Linked DNA regions of Homo sapiens. The protein of the gene in region 3 interacts with the protein of the main gene of each other region in a pairwise test. Each region holds a gene or a part of one and is shown on either strand. Other genes may lie near its edges.

Region 1 (7,331 bases), on a different chromosome or scaffold from region 3:
GAAGAGGAATCTGCCATTAAAAAAAAAAAAGTGGGGGCGGGGCGGGCGTGGTGGCTCATGCCTGTAATTCCAGCACTTTAAGAGGCCAAGGCAGGTGGATCACGAGGTCAGGGGATCGAGACCATCCTGGCTAACACGGTGAAACCCCGTCTCTACTAGAAATACAAAAAATTGGCCAGGCGTGGTGGTGGGTGCCTGTAGTCCCAGCTACTCGGGAGGCTGAGGCAGAAGAATGGCATGAACCCGGGAGGCGGAGCTTGCAGTGAGCCAAGATCGTGCCACTGCACTACAGCCTGGGCATCAGAGGGAGACTCCGTTTCAAAGAAAAGAAAGAAAGAAAAAGGGCCAGGAACGGTGGTTCACGCCTGTAATCTCAGCACTTTGGAAGGCTGAGGCAGGCAGATCACCTGAGGTCAGGAGTTTGAGATCAGCCTGACCAACATGGCAAAACCCATCTCTACTAAAAATACAAGACGCTTGAACCCGGAGGAGCGGAGGTTGCACCACTGCACTCCAGCCTGAGCAACACAGCAAGACTCTGTCTCAAAAAAAAAAAAAAAAAAAAGAAAAGAAAAAGAAAAGAAAGGCAGAGGCTGGCTGTTTGGTCTGCGTGAGACCACTCTTTCATCTCCATTAACCTTCCAAACAAATCTCTTTGTTTAGTTAAAAAGTTTGCAAATTTAGAACACAGACCAAGACATTTTACAGAGCAGCACCTGAACAAACAAAAACACATTAGCTCCAAATGATTTCTTTATTTTGAGATGGAGTTTCGCTCTTGTTGCCCAGGCTGGAGTCCAATGGCGTGATCTCTGCTCACCGCAACCTCCGCCTCCTAGGTTCAAGCGATTCTCCTGCCTCAGCCTCCCTAGTAGCTGAGATTACAGGTACGTGCCACCACGCCTGGCTAATTTTGTATTTTTAGTAGAGACGGGGTTTCTCCATGTTGGTCAGGCTGGTCTTGAACTCCCAACCTCAGGTGATCCACCTGCCTCAGCCTCCCAAAGTGCTGGGATTACAGGTGTGAGCCACCATGCCCGGCCAATTAGGTCCAAGTGATTTCTTTGTAATTTTTAAATTCTTCATGGGAGACTCACAGTTCTTTTTTGTTTTTTATTATATTTTTTCACTTTTCTCTCTTTTTGAGTCAAGAACTCATTTTGTTGCCCAGGCTTCTGGGCTCAAGGAAGGACAAGGTTTATTAGCAGCATGAGAACTGACTAATACAATCACGGTGGAAGACCAGAGGGGTCTCCCTGGATCTCCTGGACACCAATGTGTGACTTTGGACAAGTAATCCCCACCAACTGTAAAGTGTGAACACTGATGCTGAAGTCAGCAGAAATTAAAGCCTATAAACTCCCTCTTTGAGAAAGGAAGCTAGCTGGCAGGGCACGGTGGCTCACGCCTGTAATCCCAACACTTTGGGAGGCCAAGGCGGGAGGATCACTTGAGGCCAGGAATTTGAGACCAGCCTGGCCAAAACGGTGAAACTCCATCTCTACCAAAAATACAAAAATTAGCTGGGCATGGTGGCGCCTGTCTGTAGTCTCAGCTACTCAGGAGACTAAGGTGGGAGGATCACTTGAACCCAGGAGGTGGAGGTTGCAGTGAGCTGAGATCACGCCACTGTACTCCAGCCTGGGCGACAGAGCGAAACTCCGTCTCGAAAAAAATTAAAATATTAAATAAAATATAAAAACAGACAGCAGGACAGGCACAGTGGCTCATGCCTGTAATCCCAACACTTTGGGAGGCCAATATGGAAGGACTGCTTGAGCCCAGGAGTTCGAGAACAGCCCAGGCAACATAGTGATACTTCAGTCTGTACAAAAATTTAAAAGTAAAAAATAATAGCTGGGCCAGGCACAGTAGCTCGTGCCTGTAATCCCAGCACTTTTGGAGGCTGAGGCAGGTAGATCACCTGAGTTCAGGAGTTCGAGACCAGCCTGGCCAACATGGTGAAACCCTGTCTCTACTAAAAATACAAAAATTAGCCAGGCATGGTAGCACACACCTGTAATCCCAGCTACTTGGGAGGCTGAGGCACGAGAACTGCTTGAACCTGGGGTCGGAGGTTGCAGTGAGCTGAGATCACGCCACTGCACTCCAGCCTGGGCAACAGGGTGAGACTCTTTCTCAAAAAAAAAATAAATAATAAATAATACCCGGGTATGGTGGTGTGCCACTCCCTGCAATCCCAGCTACTCGGGAGGCTGAGGAGGGAGGATCACTTAAGCCTAGGAGGTCGATGCTGCAGTGAGCTGATTGTGCCACTGCACTCCAGGCTGGGCAGCAGAGCAAGACCCTGTCTCTTAAATAAATAAAATAGTTAAAAAAGGAAAACAGACAGGAAAACTCCAAGTGCAGAGAAGCCTAGTGGTACTTGGTGGGGGAAACAAAAGTTGTTCCAGGTATAATAGTTCCTGAAGTCAACACTCTATCATGGCAAGACACCAGGCACTCAAATTCCAAGTCATGAACTTACCTTTTCCTTGTTTTGAGGATTACATTGTGTTGGGCGACAGCTCTTTTAGGCTTCTGGGAAGTAAGGTATACATTCTGGAGTAACTTCCAAAGAAAAAGGTGAAAGCATACGCGGAACTTTTGAGCCTTGAAAAAGTTCAGCGAGTCATTCTTGAAAAGTCCTTTTTTTAAACAAAGGGGGTTTCAGTCACCTCACATTTGCATAGCAGTTTCTCTCTTGTCAAAGCCTTTCACATTCACTTATTTTAATTCTTACAGCACTCAAGGAAGAGTGTGGAGTTGGGGGTCGGGGGTTGGGTGCAGAGCAGTGTTAACATCCTTCTGTAAGAGAAACGGAGGCTTTTGAGAGGCCAGGCGTGGCGGCTCATGCCTGTCATCCCGGCACCTTGGAAGGAGGATCCATTTGGGTCCAGGAGTTCCCGGCACTTTGGAAGGAGGATCATTTGGGTCCAGGAGTTCAAGACCAGCCTGGGCAACATGGGGGAAACCCTGTCTCTACAAAAAAAAAAAAAAAAAAAAAAAAAAAGCTGGGCGTGGTGGTGTGCCCTGGTAGTCCTAGCTACTCAGGGTGCTTGAGGCAGGAGGATTGCTTGAGCCCAGGAGGCGCAGGATGCAGTTAACCGTGATCGCGCCACTGCACTCCAGCCTGGGCGACAGAGCAAGACTCTGTCTTGGAAAACAAACAAACAACAAATACAATAAATTAAAAAAATTAGTTGGGTGTGGTGGCACACAGCTGTAGTCCCAGCTACTCAAGAGGCTGTGGCAGGAGGATCCCTTGAGACCAGGAGTTCAAGACCAGCCTGGGCAATGTTATGAGACACGCCACCCGCCCAGTCTTTACAGAGAATAAAAAAGTTATCTGGGTGTGATGGTGCACACCTATAGTCCCAACAATTCAGGAGGCTGAGATGGGAGGATCGCTTGAGACACGGGAGTTGGAGGCTGCCGTAAGCCGAGATCGGGCTAGTACACTGCAGCTGGGGCAACAGAGTGAGACCCTGCTTCAAAAAAATAAATAAATAGGGGCCGGGCGCGGTGGCTCACGCCTGTAATCCCAGCACTTTGGGAGGGCGAGACAGGCGGATCACTTGAGTGGTCAGGAGTTCTAGACCAGCCTGGCCAACAAAAATAAGCCAAACGTGGTGGTGTGTGCTTGTAATCTCAGCTACTCGGGAGGCCAAGGCATGAGAATCACTTGAATCCGGGAGGCGGAGGCTGCAGTGAGCCGAGATCGCGCCACTGGACTGCAACCTGGGGGACAGAGCAACACTCTGTCTCAATAATTAAATAAATAATTAAAAAAATAAAGAGGCTCCTGAGAGTCAACTTATTTGCCTGAGCCACTTATTTCACACATCCCAGGACGCCTGATGAAGGGTTCTGGATTTTATTGTCTCCTGTCATCCAGGCGGGCTTCCTGGAGGAAACCGGACCGCCAGGGAGGCCGCGGCCTCGGTCCCAGAGGTCGCGCGTCGCGGGGCCGGGGGAGGTGGGGGAGAGGAGGCCGCTCTGGGGCCGATCCCGCCCGCAGCTGGGGGCCCCCGTCACGTGACCAGCCGGGCGCCCAGGTCACGTGTCGGGGCGGGGAGGGGGGGGGCTGTCGGGGGCGACGGGCGTCCGGGCAGTGGCGCGCGCGGCACGCGAGCAGCGCACGAGGAGAGGTGGCGCGGGCCGGAGCCGCGGAGGGAGGCGGCGGCGGCGGCGGCGGCGGCGGCGGCGGCGGCGGCGGCGGCGGCGGCGGCGGCGGCGGCGGCGGCGGTGGAAGGGGCGGCCCCGCGGCCCCGCGTCCGCGTCACGTGGTGCGAGGCGGGCAGCCATCTTGCTACAAACACAAACACAGAGGAGCGGCCGCCGCGGGAGCGCCAGCGCCCCCTCCCCCGCTGCTAGCCGCCGTCGCCGTCCCCGGCCCCCGCCCGCCGCGCGCCGCCCACGCCCCGGGACCGGACCCTCGCGCCGCCCGCGGTAAGCGCCCAGTGGCCCCGCGGCCCCCGGCCCGCAGCCCAGCCCCGGGGCAGGCCCGCCCCCGACGCCGCGGCGGCCGCGCCGAGCCCGCGAGCTAGAGAAGCGCCGGAGCCAGCGCGCGGGCCGCCAGCGAGGACCCTCCCCCGTCTCCTCCCCGAGGCCGCCGCAGCCCGGTGCGTCCTCCCGCTCTCCCGCCCGCTCCGGCCCATCCCCGCCGCCGGGACCCTCCCCCAGAGCCGGCCAGCCTCGGGGAGGCCCCGGGAGGCCGGCGCCCGGCTTAGGGGGCGACCGCTCGCCCCCCTCGCACCTGGCGCCCCTCCCTGAAGGGCACGCCGTCCTCCCGGGCCGGCGCGCTGCCTTCCACCCCCGCGCTCCTAACGGTCGCCCCCGGGCCCCTGCCAAGCCCTGCCCTGGGCCGCCTGGGGGCCCCCGACCCTAGCGTCCTAGGGTGGCCGGGCCCCGCGCTTCCCGGAGTTCTCCCCAGCGCGCCTTTGGGTTCCCCTCGGAACGAGCTGGGCCTTGCGGTTCCCCAGGTCCAAGCGTTCCACGACTTTGGCCAACATGGAAGCCTTGCCCTCCACCCAGGCACCTCGCCTGGGTCCTCCTCACCTCTGTTTCCTTTCGCTCCGGCGATCTTAGTGCTGGGTCATTGGGGTCTCCTTCTTCCCAGTTGCTCGGCCGCGGGAAATACCTTCCTTAGCAGAGACTGCTTGTCCTCCCCGTCCCAGGCCAGGCCCTTCTCAGCTCATGCCCCTCCGTGCAGCAGCTCCCTGGCCACAGCTCTCACACTTTGCCTTAAAAAAAAAAAAAAACAAAAAAATTTCCGAGTAACTTTTTAAAAGCCCCTCGTCTCTCTTCTCTGTTATACAGTCATTACTCGCATTCCCGGTCAGACTCCAGGTCTGTTGCATCCTAGTGCTAGGAACTAGGAGATGCTACATAAAGACTTGTTAGCTGGATTGGATTTTTTTTTTCCAGCCACCCAAGCCTTACTTCCCTCCTGCCTCTCAAAGTGTCGTTCTGGAAGATCGTCAGCTTTCCCACCCTCTTGTGCACTGCCTCTTCGAGTCTATATAGAAGTTTCAATTTAGAACCCCGCCAACCCCTCGCCTTTGGCATGGAAACACCATCGGTGGTACCAGTAAGGGTCTCTCCTTTGCTGCCGACATGGGGGATTTGGGGTTCTTTCTCCTTCCCATCTTTCCTGTGCCCTTTGCAGACCTAGGCTAGCCACCCTCCACCAGGCTAGCCAGCTCCAATCTGATTTTCTTAGATTGTAGGTCTTGGTCCCCCAGCGGTCTGTCGTGCCATTGGGAAGGATTTGAGGGTAGACCTGGCCTTGGTGTCCCTGCCATTGCCTGGGGACCAGGGGCCCTGAGGGTCCCACGTGGTGGTTAGTCAAGTGGACCATGTGCTTAAACTTCTGGACTAGCTTTTTCTGCTGTTGGACACATCAGTCTTGTGTTCGTGATCTGATGCGTTAGCCCTAACTTTTACATCTGCTATTGGAATTTGGGAATTAAAGAAAAATAGCCCACTTTAGAGGAGAGAAGATGAGAGGAGGAGGCTAGATGAAGGATGTTGAAAGTCTAACAAATGTAAAATGGCTTCAAACTCACAGAATAATGCTTGCGAGTTTGGGATGGTTACTGCTACCGTGCGCACCTCCAGTCTTGCATAGTGTCAAGGATGTCGGGGCACGCTGTCGGAGCAGCTTCCTCCTTCTTTTCCCTGGCTGGAGCCCAAGGCTGGGCAAGTGGGCAAAAGGGATCACAGGAGGTAAAGAGTGAAAATCCTTTGAAAACTGTTAACTTGTAGACAATTGCCAAGCGGTGGTGTGATTTGCTGGGATGGCTCAGAGAGGAGAGAGCTGGGATAACCGACCAGCCGCGAAGAATGCGGGTTTGCATCTCTTTTTTAAGCCTCAGCGTCCTCACCCTACCACGCTTGGAGAATCTCCATCCTGAGAAAGGGCCAGGTCCCCTCCAGCAGGCCTGGGGCTGGGCGGTTGTTCCAGTGTTGAGGAATTGGGGACTGTGCTTCTGTTTAAGTGGCTCTGTTCTGTGCCAAGGCACAGTGCTCTGTGTTGGAGCTAATTTTAGGGGTGATGGAGTGAGGAGATAATGTTCTTAGCTGAATGTGCACTGGGACCGCCTGTTCTCTGTCTTTTCTTTCTCTCTTGAGTTCTGAGCCCCAGAGAGCAGGCTCCCTTTCCCGCGCGCCCTGGCGCCTACTGGAGCACCCGGGCCCAGCGTGTCCTCGCCCCTTGTCTCCGGCAGGGGGCAGTCTTTCAAAAGCATTGATTCAGATGCTGGGGGAGTGAGGGTAGACAGGCCCGAGAAAGAGAAGGGGTGGGGAAGGGGCGAGGAGCCGAAGTAGGCCGAGGCTTGAGGGCAGGGCCAGGGCGGGGGACAGGCTGGAAGGGGCCTGTGAGAAGGAGACCCTGAGCTGAGAAAGCTCAGCCGGGTAAGCTGAGACGGGCAGGTGGCAGTACCCCAGCCCCCGCCACCTCCTGCTCTTACCTTCATTGGACAGGGATCAGATACCTGGCCCTGAGAGCTTGCAATAGACAAACTTAGGCAGTTTTTCTTAAAAAAAAAAAATCTATTCTTTTCTCAAAGATTTTCTCCTGGCAGGATTTCAGATTTCCCTCGTGGGACAGTGTAATTAGGGAATGATGTCCCTGCTGTTCAGAGAGGAGAATGACCCAGCGTGCACACACCTGCCTTCCCTTGCCTTCCCCTTGGCCCAGTAGACCCCCAAGGGCTGTGCCCATGCTCGTGGCGCAGAGGAGGGTGTCTCAGCACTGGCGCACTTGGTATCTGGAGTCACATAGCTCTTGGCTGTGGGGCTGCCCTGTGCACCCCCTGCCCAGTGGT
Region 2 (7,026 bases), on a different chromosome or scaffold from region 3:
CGGGACCAGAGAGGCTCTATGGGTGACTCTGAAGATGGCCAGGGCAGAGCATCATGACCATAAAGACTGCCAGGGCCCTGAGCAAACCAAGACCTGTTCAGTGCTTGGTGGCCAAATAGTGGTTTTGAGCACTGACTTCTGTGCTTGGCAAGTTCCGTCAGTTTTTGATTCCATGGGACACTGCTTCCTCAGAGAACATCAGGGGAAGACTGAAGACGTAGACTTCCTTCTGGCTCTAGGGTGTAAAATGGGACAGGTTATAACACTGGTGTGGCTTCTGTCAGATTCAGAGGTGACTCCAACACAGAAGGCTGTAAACAGAAGTGCATGATCTGAAAAAGAAGAGCTCACAGCTGTAGTAACACTTCCTTTCTTTCAATTACTATTTTTTTAAATGGAGACATGTTCTCACTATGTTGCCCAGGCTGGTCTCGAACTCCTGGGCTCACGTGTACTAACACTTCCATTGTGGCATTACTGCTTTTGGTTTCCTTGCTGAATATTCCTGTCTCTGGTCCTCAGGAGCAGCAAGACCAATTTCCACTTCAGAAGGTCCTGAAAGTGGCAGCTACGGAACGGGAGTTTGGCAACTACCTTTTCCGCCAGAATCGTTTCTATGATGCCAAAGTGAGATATAAAAGGGTGAGAATGCTTTGAAAGTTAAGTGTAAGTTTAGATCCTGAAAACTTCCTTGTTTAAAAAACACAGATTTTGTTTTGTTGTGATTTTTGTTTTGTTTTGTTTTTGAGACAAGAGTGTCGCTCTGTCGCCCAGGCTGGAGTGCAGTGGCGCAATCTCAGCTCACTGCAAGCTCCGCCTCCTGGGTTCACGCCATTCTCCTGCCTCAGCCTTCCAAGTAGCTGGGACTACAGGCACCCGCCACTTCACCTGGCTAATTTTTTTGTATTTTTAGTAGAGACAGAGTTTCACCGTGTTAGCCAGGATGGTCTCAATGTCCTGACCTCGTGATCTGCCCACCTCGGCCTCCCAAAGTGCTGGGATTACAGGTGTGAGCTACCGCGCCCGGCAAAAAACACAGATTTTTGTCTTTCTCCCTACTTTCTATGAGCAGCCATTAAGAAAAATCTCATTTAAAAAAATCCTCATGCCAGGCCAAGGCAGGTGGATCACCTGAGGTCAGGAGTTTGAGACCAGCCTGGCCAACATGGTGAAACCCCGTCTCTACTAAAAATACAAAATTAGCCGGGCGTGGTGGTGGGTGCCTGTAATCCCAGCTACTTGGGAGGCTGAGGCAAGAGAATCACTTGAACCCAGGAGGTGGAGGTTGAGGTTGCAGTGAGCCGAGATTGTGCCGTTGCATTCCAGCCTGGGCAAGAAAGGCAAAAAAACTCCCATCTCAAAAAAAAAAAAAATCCTCATGCCAAAGGGATAAGTACTGGAGAGGGGACTAACGGGGGGATAAGGGCTGAAGAGGGGACTCTCGAGGGGATAAGGGCTGGAGAGAGGACTCACGGGATTGGGAGGCACCTGGGAATGTTCTGTGTTTTGACGTGGTTCTTGGGTACATGGGTGTGTTCAGGTTGTGAAAAACATTTGCCTCTGTATATGTACTTGAACTAGAAGTGTTTAGAATTTCCATCTCACTGCTCTAAAACAATTCAGTTTATTAACTTTTAAAAATTCTCATCCCAGTGCTTATTAGGTCCTCCACCAACCGATTTCTCCACCCCTTTGCCATCATCATTTCATGTCTCTGACAGTGGAGGCTCATTTGGCGATTCTAGCCTGAGGCAATTGCAGCCTCATCAAGCCTCCTGTTGTGATTTTGCTTCTTGTGTAGGTTATGCTGAGCTGTTTTCTGTTTCCTTTTTAATTTTATTCATTCAACAAACATGGCTGGACGCAGTGGCTCATGCCTGTAATCCCAGCACTTTGGGAGGCTGAGGCGAGTGGATAGCTTGAGGTCAGGAGTTTGAGACCAGCCTGGGCAACGTGGCGAAACCCCGTCTCTACTAAAAATACAAAAATTTGCTGGCATGGTGGTGGGTGCCTGTAATCCCAGCTACTTGGGAGGCTGAAGCAGGAGAATCACTTGAACCCAGGAGGCGGAGGTTGCAATGAGCCAAGATCGCACCACTGCACTCCAGCCTGGGCAACAGGGCAAGATTCTGTCTCCAAAAAAAAAAAAAACAAAACACCACACATGCGTGTGCTGTCTCTGGAACATACTCATATAGGCCAAATGTTGCCGACCCTGTCACCCAATATCTATTCCCCCTTCTCCTAACAGAACCTCCCATTTCACTCAAAGCATCAGTGTACTAATTAAAAAACTACATCTTCCCAGCTTCCCATGAGCTTAGGGTGTCCCTGTAACAAGGGTCTAGCCAAGGAGACATAAAGGGAAACCTCTGGAGGGTCTTCCAGAAAGCTCTTAACATAACACAAGCACCAGACTCTTCTCCCCTCCCTCCTTCCCACCCAGGTGACCCCGCAATGCGTGGCCAGGGGAGAATCTCCCTGGGGCCCGCCACACAGCTCTTGTCCTGGGGCTGCCCTATAATGCTAGTTTGTGGATTTCCTGTTTTTTTCTCAACTTACTCCTTTGTTTTAACAGAGTATGTTGATGTATGTCTAAAATATTCTTGGTTTTTAAATACATATTTGTCTAGAGTTGTTATTAAAAAGTCTTTTGGCTGGGCACGGTGGCTCATGCCTGTAATCCCAGCACTTTGGGAGGCCGAGGCGGGTGGATCACCTGAGGTCAGGAGTTCAAGACCAGCCTGGCGAACATGGTGAAACCCCGTCTCTACTAAAAATACAAAAATTAGCTGGGCGTGTTGGTGGGTGCCCATAGTCCCAGCTACTTGGGAGGCTGAGGCAGGATAATTGCTTGAACCCGGGAGGTGGAGGTTGCAGTGAGCCAAGATGGCATAATTGCACTGCAGCCAGGGGAATAAGAGTGAAACTCCATCTCAAAAAAAAAGGTCTTGCTAGTTCTGAGCTCAAAGCTAACAACAACAACAAAAAAATCTTACTACTACTTAGGTTCTTTATTCCTTTCTACGTGACCTGTTTTTTCTTCTGTAGAGACGAAGATCGTTTTTCCCCGGCATTCCTAAATTTTACGGTGATGTGCCTCTGCGTGTGTGTATCTTTTCATTCAGGAAACTTTTCCTCCACTCTGGGAAACTTTCTTGAGTTATTTCTTTGATAATTTACTCTTGTTCCCTCTGCCCTCTTTGTCTGGAACTCCTATTATCAGACCTCCTGCACTGAGCTTCTGGCTGCTGTCCCTCCCCCCTCCCCACCTAGTTTCCATCTTTTCTCCTGTTTGTGTCATGTATGGAAGCTTTCCTTGACTTTTTGCCACCTCTTCTGATGAATTTTTCATTTAAAACTGGGGGGCCAGGCACAGTGACTCACACCTATAATCCCAGCACTTCAGGAGTCCAAGGTGGGAGGATTGCTTGAAGCCAGGAGTTAAAGATCAGTCTGGGCACCATAGCAAGATCCCATCTCTACAAAAAATAAATTTTAGAAAATTGAAGGGCTATTTGTTCTTCCCCTCCCTAGCATTCTGTTCTTGTTTCATGTGTATATTATTTTATATATTTAGACTGTCGATTATAATTTAATCTCATTCTTTTTCTGTTTGGTTTTTCTACATATTGGGGACTGTGTCCTTTTGCACTAAGTTTGTCAATGACCTAAAGATGGTTTATTTCTCACTCATGTAAAAGGCTAGAGTAGAGGCATGCAAGCTAGGGCCAGTTGGTGACTCTGCTGCAGATATTTTCAGATACCCAGTTCTCATTTCTGGGGTGAGACTCTGGCCTTGTAGTCCAAGATGAGGGTCTCTGAGTTCTAGCAGCAGAAGGGAAGAAAGGCTGAAGGCATGTACAGCTCTGTTAAGGAAGGTCCTTGTCATATGATGCTTCTACTGAATTATGTTTTCCAGAACCTGTTCTCCAGGCTTTGCCTAGCTGCAAAGAAGCCTAGCAAATATCTAAATTCTGGTTGTACGTGTTCCTGGCCAAAAAAAAAAAAAAAAAAAGTCCTATTACTGTGAAGGAAGGGAGGGCAGCTGCTGGGAGGCAGGAGGCCACCTCTTTCACAGAGGGTTTCCTCAAATGGCTGGTGATCTTTGACCACTAAGATTTAAAAGAGACATCACAAAGCTGATTGGGAGCTCCAGGTGCTTGGTGGGGCAGGTTGCAGTGTGGTCAAAGACAGCCTGCACACATTAGAGTATGTAGGTGTTTCCTCAGGGTCCATTGAGTCCTCCTCTTTCTGCCCCGTGTGTGTGCCAAGGGACCGGCATTCTGGGAGCCAAGCTGGGCAGCAGGACAGAGGTTCTCACTGTCTGGTATTGAGATTCCTTTTCATAGCCGCGTTACCAGTATACCACCTTCCTGCTGTCTGCTCCAGCCTGCCCCCAAGTCAAGGGCCTCTTTGGTTCCATTTTCCCAGAAAGGAGACCTCGTGATTGCTGAGGCCATCTGGACACATAGGGGCAGTGGACGGGGTGGGGAACATTTGACCTGACCTCCTTTATTCAGCCCCACCAGATAGCTCTAATTCCTGGTTCCATCAGTTCCTAGGTCTCTCCAGGCTCTGAGGGGCAGACCGGTCCCTTTTACATTGGCACCACTCTGCCAAATCAGTCATCACACTGCCACCCACCCTGAACCTTTGGGTTTATTGGTCCTTTTCCTGTCCTTTGCTTGTGTTGGAGTACTACCTGTCTTAGTCCCTTAGGGTTGGAGAAAGTAGGGATGTGTGTGGAGCCTGCCTTGCTGAGCCAGAGGTTTTGCACGTCTTTTCCTAGTGGAAAGTTTCTCCGTCTTTGGAGCAGCGGACTGACATTGTCAGCACCACTGTGTCTCCACCTTTTGCTCAGCATTGTCTGGGTCACACAAGTATGGGGTTTCCTGCTTTCAAGGGATTTGAATCTAGTTAGGGAGTTAAATGCAGCTCCAACAGCTAACCAATACCTATGGTCTGAATGTTTGTGTCTCCCCAAAATGTGTATGTTGAAACCTAATCATCCATGTGATATTAAGAGGTGAGGCCTCTGGGAGATGATGAGGTCATGAAGATGAAACCCTCTTACATGGAGTTAGTGGCCTTATAAAAGAGGTCCCTGAGAGCTGTCTTGTCCTTTCCACCATAAATTCTCGGCAGGAAAAAAGATGAACAAAGTGATCAGAACCTATTCAGGCCACAGTTGGTAGATTCCTAGTCAGAAACATAGGTTACATCTAAGGAATCATAGGTGATAGGAGGCGGCCAGATTCAGGAAGACATTCAAATATGTGTGGATGGATTTGGACTTGATGAAGTGGATGGCAGGGAACCACTGAGGAAGAGTGTGTTGATAAAAGTCATATTCGGGGAAGAGGCAGTAGTTGTGCTGGAGCTCGTGAAAACTCAAAATTTCAATTGTAAAATTTTCAGGAGTTTTGTGCCCTCGTTAATGTCACTTTGGTAGTTTGAAATCAGCTCTGGGAGGAATATTTACAGCATAGGAATAGGCAAATGCTACAAACAGGGGTCCACCTCCCCCGAGAGCTGGCTATTAAACATGTACCAGCACACCACTGTGTGCAGGACATGTCAAATGACAAACTTCATTTTAATGAGGCTCTGTTTCATGTTAGGCACCGTGCTGGGTGTGCTGCGGCTGAACCTGTTAACAGGGTCCAGGAATGTGTTAAAGCAGCTGTGAGTTGTGCAAATAGAAGAAAAAGCTCTGGAAGTACTTCCACAAAATGGATGGTTAGACTTGATGACGTTGTATATGATGAAGTTGTATATATAAGAGATCAAGGAAACAGAAGAAGGGAATGACTTGAAACTTCCTGGTCTGAGAAAAAAATTTAAACCAAGGAATAACTGGGAAAGAAATGTGTTACTTTCAATTTTGATTACTCATGGGAATGAGCAGGTAAGCAGGGCCTGTAGAAAACTGTTTCCAGCTGACAACTTGCTTCACAATTTCATTTGGGTATGAGAGCAGGGTTCAGGCGTGAGGTTCCAGCTGGTGATGTGAATGGGAGCTGAATCCATTCAGAAGGTATGGAGACAGTTGATGGGAACTTGCCTGGTGAATGCCCAGAGTTTAGAGATGGAAGGGAGGACCAAGGAAGGCTCATGACTTTCTGCCTGTGCTGCCATCTCCTGACACATTTTCTCCAGTTCTTCCATGTTCTTTTTTTTTTTTTTTTTTTTTTGAGACAGAGTCTCACTCTATCACCCAGGCTGGAGTGTACTGGCGCCATCTCGGCCTCACTACAACCTCCGCCTCCCAGGTTCAAGGGATTCTCCTGCCTCAGCCTCCCAAGTAGCTGAGATTACAAGCGCCTGCTACCACATCCAGCTCATTTTTTGTATTTTTAGTAGAGGTGGGGTTTCCATGTTGGCCAGGCTGATCTTGAACTCCTGACCTCAGGTGATCCGCCCGCCTCGGTCTCCCAAAGTGCTGGGATTCCAGGTGTGAGCCATCGTGTCCGGCCTTCCAGTTCTTCCATTCTACTTGCACCTTCCAAATGGAGTTCCAGGGAGTGCAGGCTCTGCCTTCATCCATTTTTTTTTGTTTTACTATTTTTTTTCTTGTTGTTGAGATATGATTCACATACCATAAAATGTGTGCTTTTAAAGTGTCCAATTCAGTGGTTTTTAGTATATTCACAAAGTTGTGCAGCCATTGCCACTATCTAATTCCAGAACATTTTCCTCACCCCGAAATGAAACTCACAATTCTTTGGCCTCAGATAGCCTCTGTTCTCCTTTGTTTCTATGGATTTGCCTATTCAGGACATATTTTGTAACTAGAATTGTCAAATATGTGTCATTTTGTGGCTGTCTTATTTCACTTAGCATGTTTTTGAGGTTTATCCATGTTGTAGCTTGTACAAACCTCATTCTTTTTTTGTTTTTTGTTTTTTATGAGACAGAGTCCCTGTTGCCCAGGCTGGAGTGCAGTGGCACGATCTCGGCTCACTGCAACCTCTGCCTCCCAGGTTCAAGCGATTCTCCTGCCTCAGCCTCCCAAGTAGCTGG
Region 3 (7,026 bases):
GAACTTTTTGTTTTGGTCATTGGTGTGACCTTGATGGCTAGAAGAGTGCCTGACATGCAGTGGGTGCTCAGGAGACATTTGAGTGAATGCGTGCATGCATGCATGAGTGAATGAATGAATGAATGGTGCACAGAGAGAAAGAAAGAGGGAGCCCAACAGGAAGCTCCCAGGTGGAGCTGGAATGCTGAGGTCCCCTCTGTAGGCAGTGCCCCTAATAATAAGAGAGGCCATGCATAATCCTGATGGGCCACGGGTGTCTCAAGGGCATTCAGTCTATCCCCCACATCTGTGTGTACCTATCTGTACACAAAAACTATCCTCTACCATTAATCACATCCCTATGGAAGGAGATTCCACAGACTCCCCTGTCTTCCATACCACACCTTCCCCTGCACCCATCTGAATAGCAAATTGGCTGCCGTTGGATCTGTCAACTGCAAACTCCATGTTTGAATAGATTCCCCTTTACCATCCACAGGGAAAGGAACAAGCACCTTCGGGATGAACGGGACATATGTTTTCAGGTAATTGGCCAGTTCTCCCTTACCTGTGGGGGACCAAGGGCTGTGGTCCACTGGACAGCCAGATCCATGTCGAGACTGGCCCAGCAATGTCCTGACACTCGGGATCTATTTGGCAGGATGACGGCATGAAAACGTTTTGCAAATAATAAAAATTCAGGGTGGCCTACTGGGTAACAACGTGTTAATTTTCCACAGAGTAATGCAGTTTCCTCTTGGCACAACAAGACTGAAATATTTGGGAGGGTCGCACATTTCTTGGATGCAGAAATGATAGTTCTATCCATGAGATGGCGCAGTTGAAATGTCATTATCACTTCTAAACCAAAATGCTCACACCGTTCTTCTTCATTTAAATTTTTATCTCGATGAAAATTTTGCATTTTATACTGTCATAGACCACATTAGAAATGTGTATTTCACTGTTTTCATACTTGATTTTATGAACAATTTTTCTCTATCCTATAGGGACCCCTACTCTTCCATACCTGAGTACCATGTCTCTCTCTCTATATATATGTAGTGTGTGCATATATATATATATATATGAGTCGTAGAATCACAAAACTGCTAAGCACTTTGAGGTCATCTGGACTGCCCTCTCCACCTCTAGTATTAACGGATGAAATTCCCAGCTGTGAACCCCAAAGTGCATTCTGCAGTTTATATATATATATATAATATAAATATATATAATATATATTATATATTAATATAAATATATATAATATATATAATATAAATATATAATATATATTATATATATTTATATATAATATAAATATATATATAATATATATTATATAAATATATATATAAACTATATATATATAGTCTGTGTGCATATATATGTATGTATGTGTATATGTGTGTGTATATGTATGTACATATATATATATACACACACACACTTTCCTAAACGACATGAAATCCTATATTTATTTGAAGGTCTTCACTGTGGACCACATTGGCCAAAACCTAGGATTCCATGTTCTTACTCATCTTTCCCTTTAGACAGGAGCCACTGGGTGCTTTGAAGGGAAGAAAAATGAAGGCCAAATTGATTGATGTGACTTCCTAATTATCAGGGTTACCATCCTATGAATTTCATGTGGGTCCCTGGGCAAGTCATTTACTGCCTTGGACCATGACCTCCGCTGTCACGCGAGGAAAGTGAATTCCCATCCCCCCTCCATACAACAGGAATCTTTGAGAAAGATTCTTGGAAAGGGGATGATGTGGATTGCACCCTTAGCTGAACGGTGACCTAGATATGGTCAGCAGAAGGCAATTGGTTTGCCCTAAATTAGATCTGACCTGCTTTATAATTGCAAATCCCTGAGGGACTGCATTACGCCACAGTTTCTTTTCCATTGCTGACTGGCAGCAAACATCTCTGCCACCCACCTGTGTGTACTATTAGAGCAAGACTTGAGCCTACACATGTTTGTTTGATGATGATAATGGTTATAATTGTTTTAGAAGTAACACTGAATTTATTTTAAAACTTCCAACCAAATGTCACCCGAATCCCTTCACCTCCCTTCCCTTTACCTGCCAAACTCATTCTGCTTTGAAAGGGGTATGGAATTAAGAACTTCTGTGGGGAATCAAAGAAAGGGATAAATTCAATAAGAATTGAAGATTGATTTAGAATCAGCATAGCCATACCTTCAGGGGCTCTGGGAGCATTGCAGCCCCTCCTCTCATTAAGGATCACTGGGAATCATGGGATGGCTAATTAACGAGAGAGATTTCCTGCAGTCTAACTCCCCCGCCTCATCTCCTGGAAGACATCTGTCAGGGAGCATAGGCAAAGGGGGTTGTAAACCCCTGCTCCACCCAGGTCCTGTGTTACAGATGTTAGTAGTTTATCTACACCCAGCCTACTTCCACCAAAGAGCTGAACTACCTTATGCTAGCTCAGGACAGAACACTGAGTTAATTGATCCTCCTGGCTAGTTACTTTCTCATTACATCTGAGGCTTTAGAAATAAAAAGGGATTGGAGCCAGACAGAAGAGTGTGAATTAAAGATTCACAGAGTTTTTTATGCCTGTAAATATTTTTTCTTTTTTCTATCTGACCAGGCGTGGTGGCTCACTCCTGTAATCCCAATACTTTGGGAGAGTGAGACAGGAGGATCACTTAAGGCCAAGAATTCAAGACCAGCCTGGACAACATAGCAAGAGTCCATCTCCACAAAAAATGAGAAAATTAGCCAGGCATGGTAGGGCGCCTATAATCCTAGCTACCCAGGAGGCTGAGGCTAGAGGATTGCTTGAGTGCAGGAGTTTGAGGCTGCAGTGCGCTGTGATCATGCCATTGCACTCTGACCTGGAAGACAGAGCAAGACCCTGTTTCAAAAATATAGATATATTTTTTCAGAAGAGATAAGTGTTTAATGTATATTTTCTAGATGCATTAGAAATATGTATAGAAAATATGCATTAAACACTTATCTCTTCTTTTCCTTTTACAAATCATCAGTGCTCCTGTGAATAGCATGATGGGCCCCAGGCTGTAAACTGTGCACTTGTTCATTTGATTAGCTGACTGGAAAGGAGATGGAGGGATTCTGGTAGGGGATGATGGCAAAAGGGAAGAGTGGCTAGACGCTAACAGGGAGACCAGAACACTGCCTACTCCTTTCAGAGTTTTGTGTAGAGCCTAGTCTATGAGGTGGGAACCATGAGCCCTTTTCTGTTCAAACATCGGAGCAAATAGGCATGGATCTGAGGACATTTTGTGTTTCTACAGAAAAATAAGGCAGCCAAGGCAAACACAGCTGCTTCCAGGGCAAGTTGGAAAAAGAGATCTGGCTCTGTGATAGGCAAATATGTGGACAGCAGAGGGATTCTTAGGAGGTAAGTCATCTCCACTTGCTCATCCCTTCATTCCTCTCAGGCTCATTGGGAGCTGGCTCTGGGCCCATACTCAGTGCCTGCTGACCCCTTGAGAGGTGCGGAAACTGAGGTCAGCTGCACTCACTCCCCTCAAATCTTGGAACACATGCCCCTCCCTGTTCTGACATCTAAGCCAGAGGGGGAATGTGCAGAGCAAACCCCACAGGACAGACCATTGTCTTCTGAGGCTGCCCCACCCTACTGTGTGTTTGCAGAGAGGGACTGCAGAGCAGCAGAGGAGAGGGGTCAAGGGAGAGGGAGGGAGTGTGTAGCTGGGTAGCACTACACTGCTGTCTGCTGAGCAGAATGGATGCACTTGGTTTCGGGGTTTTTGTTGTTGTTGTTTTTTGAGACAGAGTCTTGCTTTGTTGCCCAGGCTGGAGTGCAGTGGTGCAATCTCGGCTCACTGCAACCTTTGCCTCCCAGGTTCAAGCGATTCTCCTGCCTCAGCCTCCCAAGTAGCTGGGATTACAGAGGTGCGCCACCACGCCCATCTAATTTTTGTATTTTTAGTAAAGATGGGATTTCTCCATGTTGGCCAGGCTGGTCTTGAACTCCTGCCCTCGTGATCTGCCCGCCTCGGCCTCCCAAAGTGCTAGGATTACAGGTGTGAGCCACCGTGCCCGGCCAATGCACTTGGTTTTTTAGGAACATGACTATATTGGCTATGAAGGTTAATTAAACTGTCAAATAGAATCTCCAATAGTTAACTCCTTTTACAGACAAGGCTAGGGCTTGTGCTTGACAGATCGTTTCCATGACCTATATTTAATTAACTCAAACATAACACATTTTGTTGCTCTTGGGCAGCACATGATTGAGCTTGAGTACCCAAGGGTTGGCTCATTGCTCATTGAGAGACAAACCAGTCCCCTGCCCACTCTTCATTTTGGCATGTGCTGTGTCCACATAGATGGCCACAGAGAGATAGAGGCATCCCGACTCTTCAGTATCAGACCCAGAGAGACCTTGAAGACTGCAAGCATGAAATGAAAAAGATATGCAAAGCGGAAGTGACTCTGGAGATGTAAATCAGCTCATCAGTAAAACCTTTGGGCCTGATCATCATGAATTCTTGTTCTAAATAGCTGAATAATGAGATACAATTTGGGAGCCAAATCTCTGCAATAGTGGTTGGCCTGTTGGTTCCTCAGAATGGAATGGATTGATTGATTGATTCAGCAGACGTTTACTGATTACCTACTGTGTACCAGACATTCTTTTGAGTTCTGTAAAGCCTCCAAAAATAAATTAGACATGAGGTCCTACCATTAATCTCCATTATTAAATGCTCACTTAATAAATATTTATTGAGTGTCTACTATGTGTGAGGTCCTGTGCTCTTTGCTGGATATACAGTAGTGAGCCAAATGGACCTACCTCTGTGTCATTGAATTTCTGGTTGAGTGGAAGAAGCAGACAATAATCAAGTAAGCAACAAATTGTGAGCCCTGAATTCTAATGCAGACTTTGACAAAAGTAGCTGCTGTCCCTACGGATGGCAGAGAGCACTTGGTGGTAAAACCAAAAATGAACTCAGTCATGCCGTGATGCAGGTATTACAGAATGGCAGTAGTGCTTGAGAATTTCCCAGACAGAAAGCTTTTTCCAAGAAATGCTTTGTTTTAATGCCTGTTTAAGTGACTATTTCTTTTCTGGTTGCAAAGCCTTTGAAAAAACATGCTCTGTGTGTGTGTATGCGTAGTTGCTCATGTGTACATACAAATAGTCACTTGTGTGTGTGTAAGCAGAGTAAAAGTAGATGGGAATACCAATTGTGTTCTTAAACAAATAAGCACTTAATAAGCTTGATGCAATATATAGGAAGTTTGCTGGAAAGAAGACATTTGGCTTTTTTAAAACTGTTTTTATAAGTCAAAGGAAAGGTGCTTTAATTGCTGCAAATCCTTTATTTTTCATATCAAGGAATCCAAACTAATTCACCCTTTCTTCAAGCAAGCACTATATCGTAATTTATCTTGCAGAATCGCAGTTAATTTCAGGATGGTGATACCTGCATTTTTTTTTCTTTTTCCTTTCTACTGTTGATCTTTAAGAGTAATACATATTTTAAATTAGGGAGCAAAAGAAAGTGTATTTCTCTGTTCTGCATATTCTGTGTCCTTCATTTAGTTCCTTTCTCCTTTGGCTCTATCACCCCACTGCTTCATCCCCATTCCATTTTCTTTTCTAGTCTGTGTGCATGCTTGCATGCGTGTGTGTGTGTGTGTGTGTTTCAATTCTGGACTTAAGGTCCTCCCTGTCAAACTTCCTTTAAGACAATTTCTGTGAGGCCTTTGCTCTCAAAACCTACTGAAAATACAGACCCTGCATTGACCCCCACATCCAGTTCCCCGATTCCCTGCACTGCCTACAGCTTCTCCTTGCCCTTAGTGCTCAAATGCTTCTAGAAGATATTTAGGCCTCTGAGCCACTTACTCCTGATTGTGACTTCTAGGGATACAGAAAGGGGAAGAGAAAGGGAGAGGAAGGAGAGGTGGATGGAGATGCTCTGCCTGGCTTTCTTCTGACCCAAAGCCTCTTGTCTAGGGGGAAGCTGCCTGTGAGCCAGCAGACCTGCTATGTCTGGAGGTGGGGGGCCCTCCCAAAGCAACAGCACCCCTCACACTGCTGAGGATGTTTTGCAAACATGTCTGTTTTTATGCATTGACTTATTTGGGAATAGAGCAGATGGGCCACGTTTTACAGCAAGGTCTGAAGAGTTGGAGTGTCCTACCTAAGGACACACAGTGAGTAAGGGCTGGCGCTGGGGGCAGAGCCAAGGTCATCTGCTAATGTTAATCGGGGGCGCTTTATTAAAATCTGAGTCTGAGACACGTTTCTTCACAACCTTTCCTTCTCCTTCACAGCAGTCTCACAATTTGTAAAGGATGTATTTATTTGTGTCATTATTGCTTTAGTCCCCCACTAAATCAAGTATTCTGTGAGGACAGGGATTATGTCCATCTGTAAATGGCATCTTTACTTAATACTTGGTCATCATCATCATCATCTTTGTCATCATCTGCCACAGCAGTGGCAGCAGGCACTTAGTGGAAGCGTGTTGAATGAATGAGCTGCAGAATGCTGGCTGGTTTGTTTTTCCCTCTCCCGGACTGCTCTTGTCCAAAGGTGTGATGCTCCTTGGGTATCTGTTCGTCACAAAAGCTGTTATGCAGCCCGTATTGAAATATTTTGTGAAATCCTCCCAACTCTTCTCTCTTCCCCGCCCCAGTAGCCAGTCAGAGGAGGAGGAGGAGGTGTTTGGCATCCCAAGGAGAAGCTCCCTGGGCCTGAGTGGATATCCCCTAACAGAAGAGGAGCCAGGAACCGGGGAGCCAGGGCCTGGGGGTCCGTACCCCCGGCCGCTCCGCAGAATCATCTCCGTTGAAGAAGACCCCCTGCCCCAGCTCCTGGATGGTGGCTTTGAGCAACCCCTGAGCAAATGCTCAGAAGAGGAAGAGGTCTCTGACCAGGGGGTACAGGGACAAATCCCGGAGGCCCCACCCTTGAAACTCACCCCCACATCCCCCCGAGGGCAGCCTGTTGGAAAAGAAGCCCTGTGTAAGGTAAGGGCACAGCCTACCTTGGTTCATGCAC
Region 4 (7,026 bases), on a different chromosome or scaffold from region 3:
TTACCCTTATTTAAAAATCCTATGAAGTAGGCACTGTTATTACATCTCTTTTACGACAGGGAAGTTTAGTACCTTGCCCAAGACTACACATTGAGTAAATGGTGGAGTTGGGATTGAAATCCAGGTGGTCTGGTTCCAGAGTCTGTACTCTTAAGAGCAGAACAATAATAACTCCAAGCATTTATTAAATTCTCAAGATTTATCCGGCACCATGCTACATGCTTGTATTCAAGCAGAGGCTGGTGATCATCTTTTAGAAATATTTTAGAAATGATTACTTAATTGGATAGAAATTAAATTTCTTGAATCTGAAGGTTCTGTTATTCCAAGGATGGCTGGAAATGGGGGAAAAGCCAGCAACAAGATGATGTCTGGCCTGAGGCTTTTAAGATGATCAGAATTTGTATCAAAAAGGAAACTGTGAACACGAATGATAAGTATTATAGGAATTCAGTTAACAAGTCTTGTCAGAATGTGGTAATAAATTATATACAACTTAAAGAGATGAAGTTACTTTAAATTGTGTGTGGAAGCCTTAGAAAAATTGAATAATTAAAGTTTCTTGGGAAGATGATCTCCTTTTACAAATGTTTAGTTTCAAATAGTGGCAGCACATATTAGGATAGAGAGATGACTTCTAGAAAACTGAACATATGGGACTGGAACAGTGTATTTTGGAGTCAGTTACAGGAAGGAAGTTGTTTAAAACCAAGTGAACAACAACAGTAACAAATGCATTTGAGAGAAAGAGCAGTGCAGTCCAGACTTAAACATTAGGGTGGCCATAATAGATGGGGAAGAAGGAGAAATCAGCAATCCAGACTAAGACTTCACTGGGTTTTGAGTTAGACAGAGGGAGGCATAGAAGCCAAGGTAAAATGATTAAAACGGTACATGGAGTGGTTAGCAATTCTCCCTATAGGAGAGAGAATTTCCTTATGAAGTTTCAGATGAGACCACTGAACTTGACTAGAGGAAAGTCATTGTTTTTAGAAAACAGTTTCTAAACAATAATTAGAATTAAAGTTTTGTTGCAGAGGGATAAGTAAGAAGTAGATGGAAAAGAAAGAGGAATATCTGAAATTAGGCTACAGTCATAGAAGGTTAGCTGTGAAACAATAATTTGGAAAGGGAAATGGGACCTCATGAAAGTGTGGGTTAAAAGAGACTTGTATATCTTCTAAGGTAAAAGTAAAGAACTAAGCTGATGTCCAGCCCTCTAAAACATTTTAAATAGAAATCAAACTTTATTAATACAGTAGGTCTAGTTTCACGTAAAGCAAATATATGGTTCTGTACACGGGCTTTAGGAGAGTAAGTCTGTTGTACCTCATATGTAAGTATTATCCCATTTAGAGGAAAACCCTAAGTCTTTCTTTACAGTGGCTTAAAGGCCCCAATTGATCCACATCCCAGTTACAGCTCTCATCTATTTTCTGCTGCTCCAGATATTCTTGCTGTTTCTCAAACACGCTAGGGCTGCTCTCTGTGTTATGGCCTTTGCATTTGCTGTTCCCTTTCTCATGAATGTGTTTTCCTAAGATACCTGCATGATTACTCTCACCTTATTTAGGTCTCAACTCAAGTATTGTCAGTGAAGGTCTTCTCTGATTTTCCTATTCTAAACTGAGATACTTCTCTTTGCTCACCCCACACCCTCATCCCCAGCTCCATTCCTTCCTGTTTAATTTTTTTTCACAGCACTTAACTCCATCTATTGTGCATCTTTTACTTAGTAATTTTGTTTTCGTCTTCCGCTATTAGAATGTAAACTCCAAGAGTGTAAGAATTTTTCTAGCACTGGAAAAATGCCTGGCACATAATAGGCATTTACTAATTGTTGTGTGAATGAACGATTATAAGTTTAATATTCTTTGTGGAAACTAATAAGGTTGATTTCCTATCAGAAACCGATCATTATTAATAAGCATATTGGATGGTATTTATAGAATTAGCCTTCATATGTTCTCTACTCAGAAGTTGGCAAACTTTTTCTGTAAAGTGCCAGAGAGTAATTATTTTTGCAGGCTTTGTGGTCTCATTACAGCTACTTGACTCTGTTGTTGTAGTGGAAAATCAGCCATAGACAATCTATAAATGAATGAGCATGGCTGTGTTCCAGTAAGACTATTTATGGACACTGAAATTTGAATTGTATATAATTTTGAAATGTCAGAAAATATCCTTCTTTTGTTCTTTTTTTCTAATCATTTAAAAATGTAAAAAACTATTCACAGGCCAAACAAAAACAGGCAGTGGTCCAAATTAGACTTGCAAACTGTACTTTGTCAATCTCTGGTTTTACTGATTTCTTAAATATATCTTAGGTTAAAACTTATTTTTCCATACTTGATAGGGAGCAACAATGTGAATTAAACTGTAGAAACAAATAATTCAGAAATACATCTGTTTAGCTTTAGAAACTTCCATTTTGCTTCATTTTTGTTTTCCTGGGAACCTTATATTTCCATTATATGTTTATGATGCTACCATTTAAATGACTTTGCATTCTCTTAGCATATGCCACATGATAGTGTTAGGGTGGTGTAATAGTTCAGGAGCAAAGCTGAGCAAAGCCCACCCACGTTTAAAAATTTGCCATTATTTAGAAGGTGCATAATTCCCATATGGGAGAATGAAGAGTCATCTAATAATGCCCAGAGGGCTGCACTGTGAGTGAGAATTGTGTTGCAGTTTTTAACATTCATAACACATTTCTTGAATAAGCTGCAAATGCTTTTAATAATATATCTCAGAGTTAATTTTAGCTATGCTACATTGGCACTTTTTGCTCCTCCACTTCAAAAAACCAACACAAGAAACTATTCTCAAATCAAGCTGTGATTTGGATGGGGCATTGTATTTTCCTCAATAAGCACAAAGAAGAGAGAAAAGATGTTTTCACTTGGCAAAACTTTTTTTTTTGAGATGGAATCTCACTCTGTTGCCCAGGCTGGAGTGTAGTGGCACAATCTCGTCGGCTCACTGCAACCTCCGCCTCCCGGGTTCAAGCAATTCTCATGCCTCAGCCTCCCGAGTAGCTGGGATTACAAGCGTGCACCACCACCCTGGCTAATTTTTGTATTTTTAGTAGAGCCAGGGTTTCACCTTGTTGGCCGGGCTATTCTCAAACTCCTGACCTCAGATGGTCCTCACACCTCAGCCTCCCAAAGTGCTGGAATTACAGGTGTGAGCCACTGTGCCCAGCCCACTTGCAAAACTTTTTAACATTTATAAGGTTTTTTACATACTTGATTTTGTTCAGTTCTTAGAATAATCTCATGATGTAGGTGACCTTATTAACTATTTACAATGTGAGAAAATGGATAGTCAATGAAGATAAGTAACTTGTCCAAGGTCACAGCACCAGAACTCCAAACCAGACCTTCTGACCTTCTTGATACAGACTCCTCACAGTCACCTGCATGCCATCTTTGGTTTCAGTGCTATGAACTTTCTTCACTGCCTGTTGGTCTGTAGCTACACCTACTCATGAAGATGCCCAGAGCCTTAGCCGCTCCTTGCTCTGCCATGCTTATCTTATGCAGCTCTGGGAGGGGTGAAGAGGCTGTGGCCAGTTACCTCACTACCACTATAGCTATTCACCACCCTGTTTTCTCCTTTAGCCATTTTAGCTACTACACAATTCTTCTGGGCATTTTCTGTCTTAGTTCCCTAGTATCTGGCCTTCCCTCTTTTCTCAGTAACTGTGACCCCTGCTAGCTAGCCTTGCCAACCAATGGTTAATGAAAGGTCTTGGATATGACTGTCAAAGACAAAAGCACTCATGACCCCAATGTTTCAGGTCACAATGATTAGGAAAATCAGGACAACAAGGCTTGGGCACAGAAAAGCTGGTTTTTGAGAGGGGGATTTAGAGTTTGGTTTAAATGTGTAATCTTTGAGGTAATGGTGGAACAGCCTACTAGATTCAGTTTTCTAGTCCCTGAAAACTAAAACGAGGAATAAGTTGAATCACATATTTGGGGCACCAGCCAAATATATAGCAGCATTTATAGTTAGAATCAAAGTGTTTGTGTTTCTTAATTTAAATGCTTCTCAGAGATTCCATTTAAACAACTTCATTATGAAAATGGAGACTTACCATGCCTTTTTGATATTGTTCAGAGAAAATTGTCATAAATAATACACACAGTTTGAAATGGTTGTACATCTTATGAATCAAGGGGTGGCATGTAAAAAGGTTCCTCAGTGCCTCAATGTGGAAAATATCATAGAATGTTATTCTTCAATTGATTCCTTCCTTGACTTTGGTGTTTATATGGTATCTTAGATATTTTATGTTATTTTAATTATATTTTGTGTCTTTTTATTTGGTTAAAAATGCCTACTTAAATATTAACAGATTTTTAAATATCCCTTTGAACTCTTCCCCATTCCTGTACCTCCTTTCCCTTTTTCCGTTGTAATGTCAGCCACCTGAACATAACCCAGAAAACTAGGTATCATCCAATTGATGTTTCAGTGGAAATAAGAGAAAGAAGCACTTACTATTTCTCAATGCTTAATTGAGGAAAAGCACATGATATCTTACATATTTTAAATTGGAGGGGATAATAGGGTCAAGTTCATGCATTATATTGTGGACATCTTAATCCTATCAAATGGCTTAGTCAAAATGAGAAAGTTAATGAATTTAAGCAGACAAGTACGAACAGTGCTCTAAAAAAGGTGCTGTTACACCATCCCAACCTGTACACACATGAAAAAAAGCTGGGGTGCATTTTGCGTTTGAATAAGGGTCATGTTGACTGGCCATGGCAGACCCTGCTAGACCATACACCTGATACTCTGTCACCTGCCAGGACTCAAAAGGACATGGGAGTATGTGGTTAAGTTCTCTAAGGACTCTTTCTTCTAAAGGGAAGCAGTTTTATAGGTGGTCCTTGTAGGTCTGTTGATTCACAATCTCGTGCTTTCTTGATTGGACTGTATTGTTTTACTGTAATTTTTTGGACTTACAAGAAGTCAGGTGTTTTCATGGACTCTTCTCTTTTCCATACAGATGTCCAGAAGGCTTCTTGGGGGAATATTGTCAACATCGAGACCCCTGTGAGAAGAACCGCTGCCAGAATGGTGGGACTTGTGTGGCCCAGGCCATGCTGGGGAAAGCCACGTGCCGATGTGCCTCAGGGTTTACAGGAGAGGACTGCCAGTACTCGACATCTCATCCATGCTTTGTGTCTCGACCTTGCCTGAATGGCGGCACATGCCATATGCTCAGCCGGGATACCTATGAGTGCACCTGTCAAGTCGGGTTTACAGGTAACTAATGAGACCAAAGCCAGTGCTTTCCTACCTTCAGCAGATACCTTTATTTAGCATCTTTTAGATCATGGTGTCTGGCTCTTAAATGTCCCCCAGCTCTGGTGCACATTTAACATTATGATAAGGAACTGGGATGTTCCAGACAACTATCCCTAACTTCCTTTTAAGAGTTTCAGGGGGCAGAGAAAGAGAAAGAAAAAGGACCAAATACTTTGACTGCTTAAAGTATATATGTCAGGGCCAGGTGCGGTGGCGCACGCTTGCAATCCCAGCATTTTGGCAGGCCAAGGCAGGAGGATCACTTGAGGCTAGAGGTTTGAGACCAGCCTGGGAAACATAGCAAGACCCCATCTCTACAAAAAAACAAGAATAAAAATAAAACAAAATTAGTCATGTGTGGTGGTGTGCACCTGTAGTCCTAACTACTTGGGAGGCTGAAGTGGAAGAATTGCTTGAGCCCAGGAGTTTGAGGCTGCAGTGAGCTATGATCGCACCACTGCACTCTAGCCTGGGTGACAGAGTGAGACCCTGTCTCAAAAAAAAAAATATGTACACCAGGATGGGGAATCAGAGTTTACTTCACTAAAAGAAATAAGTACACTGTCACCAGAGGAAAAGTTGCTGATGTTATTGACTATTTGCTTTTAGAAATCTCCCTCCCTAGACATTCAGGGCACTGGCTTTTCTGGTTTTCTGAACCCTGTTCCTTTTGCTTCTTCATTACCTTGTTCTTATCCATTAAATGTTTGTGCTCCCTGGAGCACTGTTTTGCGCCCTCTTTTGAGCCACATCACAGCTCTCCCTAGGGAATTTCACTGTCTGTATTCGCCTCCACTGCCACTGTCTTCATTAGCTTGCTGATGAATCTCACCATCATTCCCTTAGCTCCACCCAACCCTGACATTCAGGCTCATGTTTCTAGTTATCCTTTGTATGTTCTCCTTGGAGATATTCTACAGGTACTTTCAGCTCACCTTGTTGACAGAAATACGTAGCAACCATGTACATCCCAAATACCCACGCTAGAAACTCCCTGTCCCTTGTTCTGACCTCATTTCAACTCAGTCACCCAAGCCAACCTCTGAGTTGCCTTTCACCTGTCTATTCCTCCCATTTCCTCTGCTACCCTGTAGTTGAAGGCCATGTTATCTCTCACCTGGGCTTCTGAAGTAGTTTCTGAATACGTTTTCTTGCCTTTATTCTCTCCCCATCTCATTCACCCATGATATTACTACATCTTTGATTATAAATGCAAATATTCTAACAATCTCACCTGCTTACAATGTCTAATATTTTTTCATCATCCGCAGAATAAACTGCAAACTCTTTTACATGACTTCCATAGCTCTCTACAGCCTAGACTTTACATCTTTTTATAGCCTGGCCTCCCCACAAGCATCTAGGCCTAGTCACACCAAATTCTCCTTATTTCCTGAAAATGTTGTACTTATTATTGCTTCCATACAGTTACACACCCTTTTGCCTGGAATGCCCTTTTCTACAACTGGTGATTGTCCAATGTTATTTAAAACTGTGTCTCAGTGACCCTTTCATGATTCCTTTAGGCAAATGGTCTCTAAGTTTTATTAGTTTTATGTATCACATTTTATTGTAATTTTTTTTACACATATCTCACCTGAATAGATTGTGGGTTTTTCTAGGTGGGTCTGAGCTTTATTCAAAAGTGTTTATTAAATTAGATGAGAAAAGGAGGAACATTCTTCATTTTTTCTCCTG

What was found.
Region 1: the proteins of CRACR2A (region 3) and GIGYF1 interact in binary tests that used the Homo sapiens proteins (3 or more experiments, as listed by UniProt).
Region 2: the proteins of CRACR2A (region 3) and FKBP6 interact in binary tests that used the Homo sapiens proteins (3 or more experiments, as listed by UniProt).
Region 4: the proteins of CRACR2A (region 3) and NOTCH2NLA interact in binary tests that used the Homo sapiens proteins (3 or more experiments, as listed by UniProt).

What each region holds. Positions count from the first base shown.
Region 1 is NC_000007.14:100,691,231-100,698,561, reverse strand, and holds the start of GIGYF1 (GRB10-interacting GYF protein 1), read left to right. Parts: upstream 1-4,311; 5' UTR 4,312-4,452; exon of another isoform or gene 4,453-4,625; intron 4,626-7,331. UniProt on the Homo sapiens protein: May act cooperatively with GRB10 to regulate tyrosine kinase receptor signaling. May increase IGF1 receptor phosphorylation under IGF1 stimulation as well as phosphorylation of IRS1 and SHC1.
Region 2 is NC_000007.14:73,331,135-73,338,160, forward strand, and holds part of FKBP6 (inactive peptidyl-prolyl cis-trans isomerase FKBP6), read left to right. Parts: intron 1-522; coding exon 523-642; intron 643-7,026. UniProt on the Homo sapiens protein: Has an essential role in spermatogenesis. It is required to repress transposable elements and prevent their mobilization, which is essential for the germline integrity.
Region 3 is NC_000012.12:3,638,093-3,645,118, reverse strand, and holds part of CRACR2A (EF-hand calcium-binding domain-containing protein 4B), read left to right. Parts: intron 1-478; coding exon 479-524; intron 525-3,280; coding exon 3,281-3,387; intron 3,388-4,339; coding exon of another isoform or gene 4,340-4,457; exon of another isoform or gene 4,458-4,750; intron 4,751-6,661; coding exon of another isoform or gene 6,662-6,664; coding exon 6,665-6,995; intron 6,996-7,026.
Region 4 is NC_000001.11:146,163,011-146,170,036, reverse strand, and holds part of NOTCH2NLA (notch homolog 2 N-terminal-like protein A), read left to right. Parts: intron 1-5,026; coding exon 5,027-5,286; intron 5,287-7,026.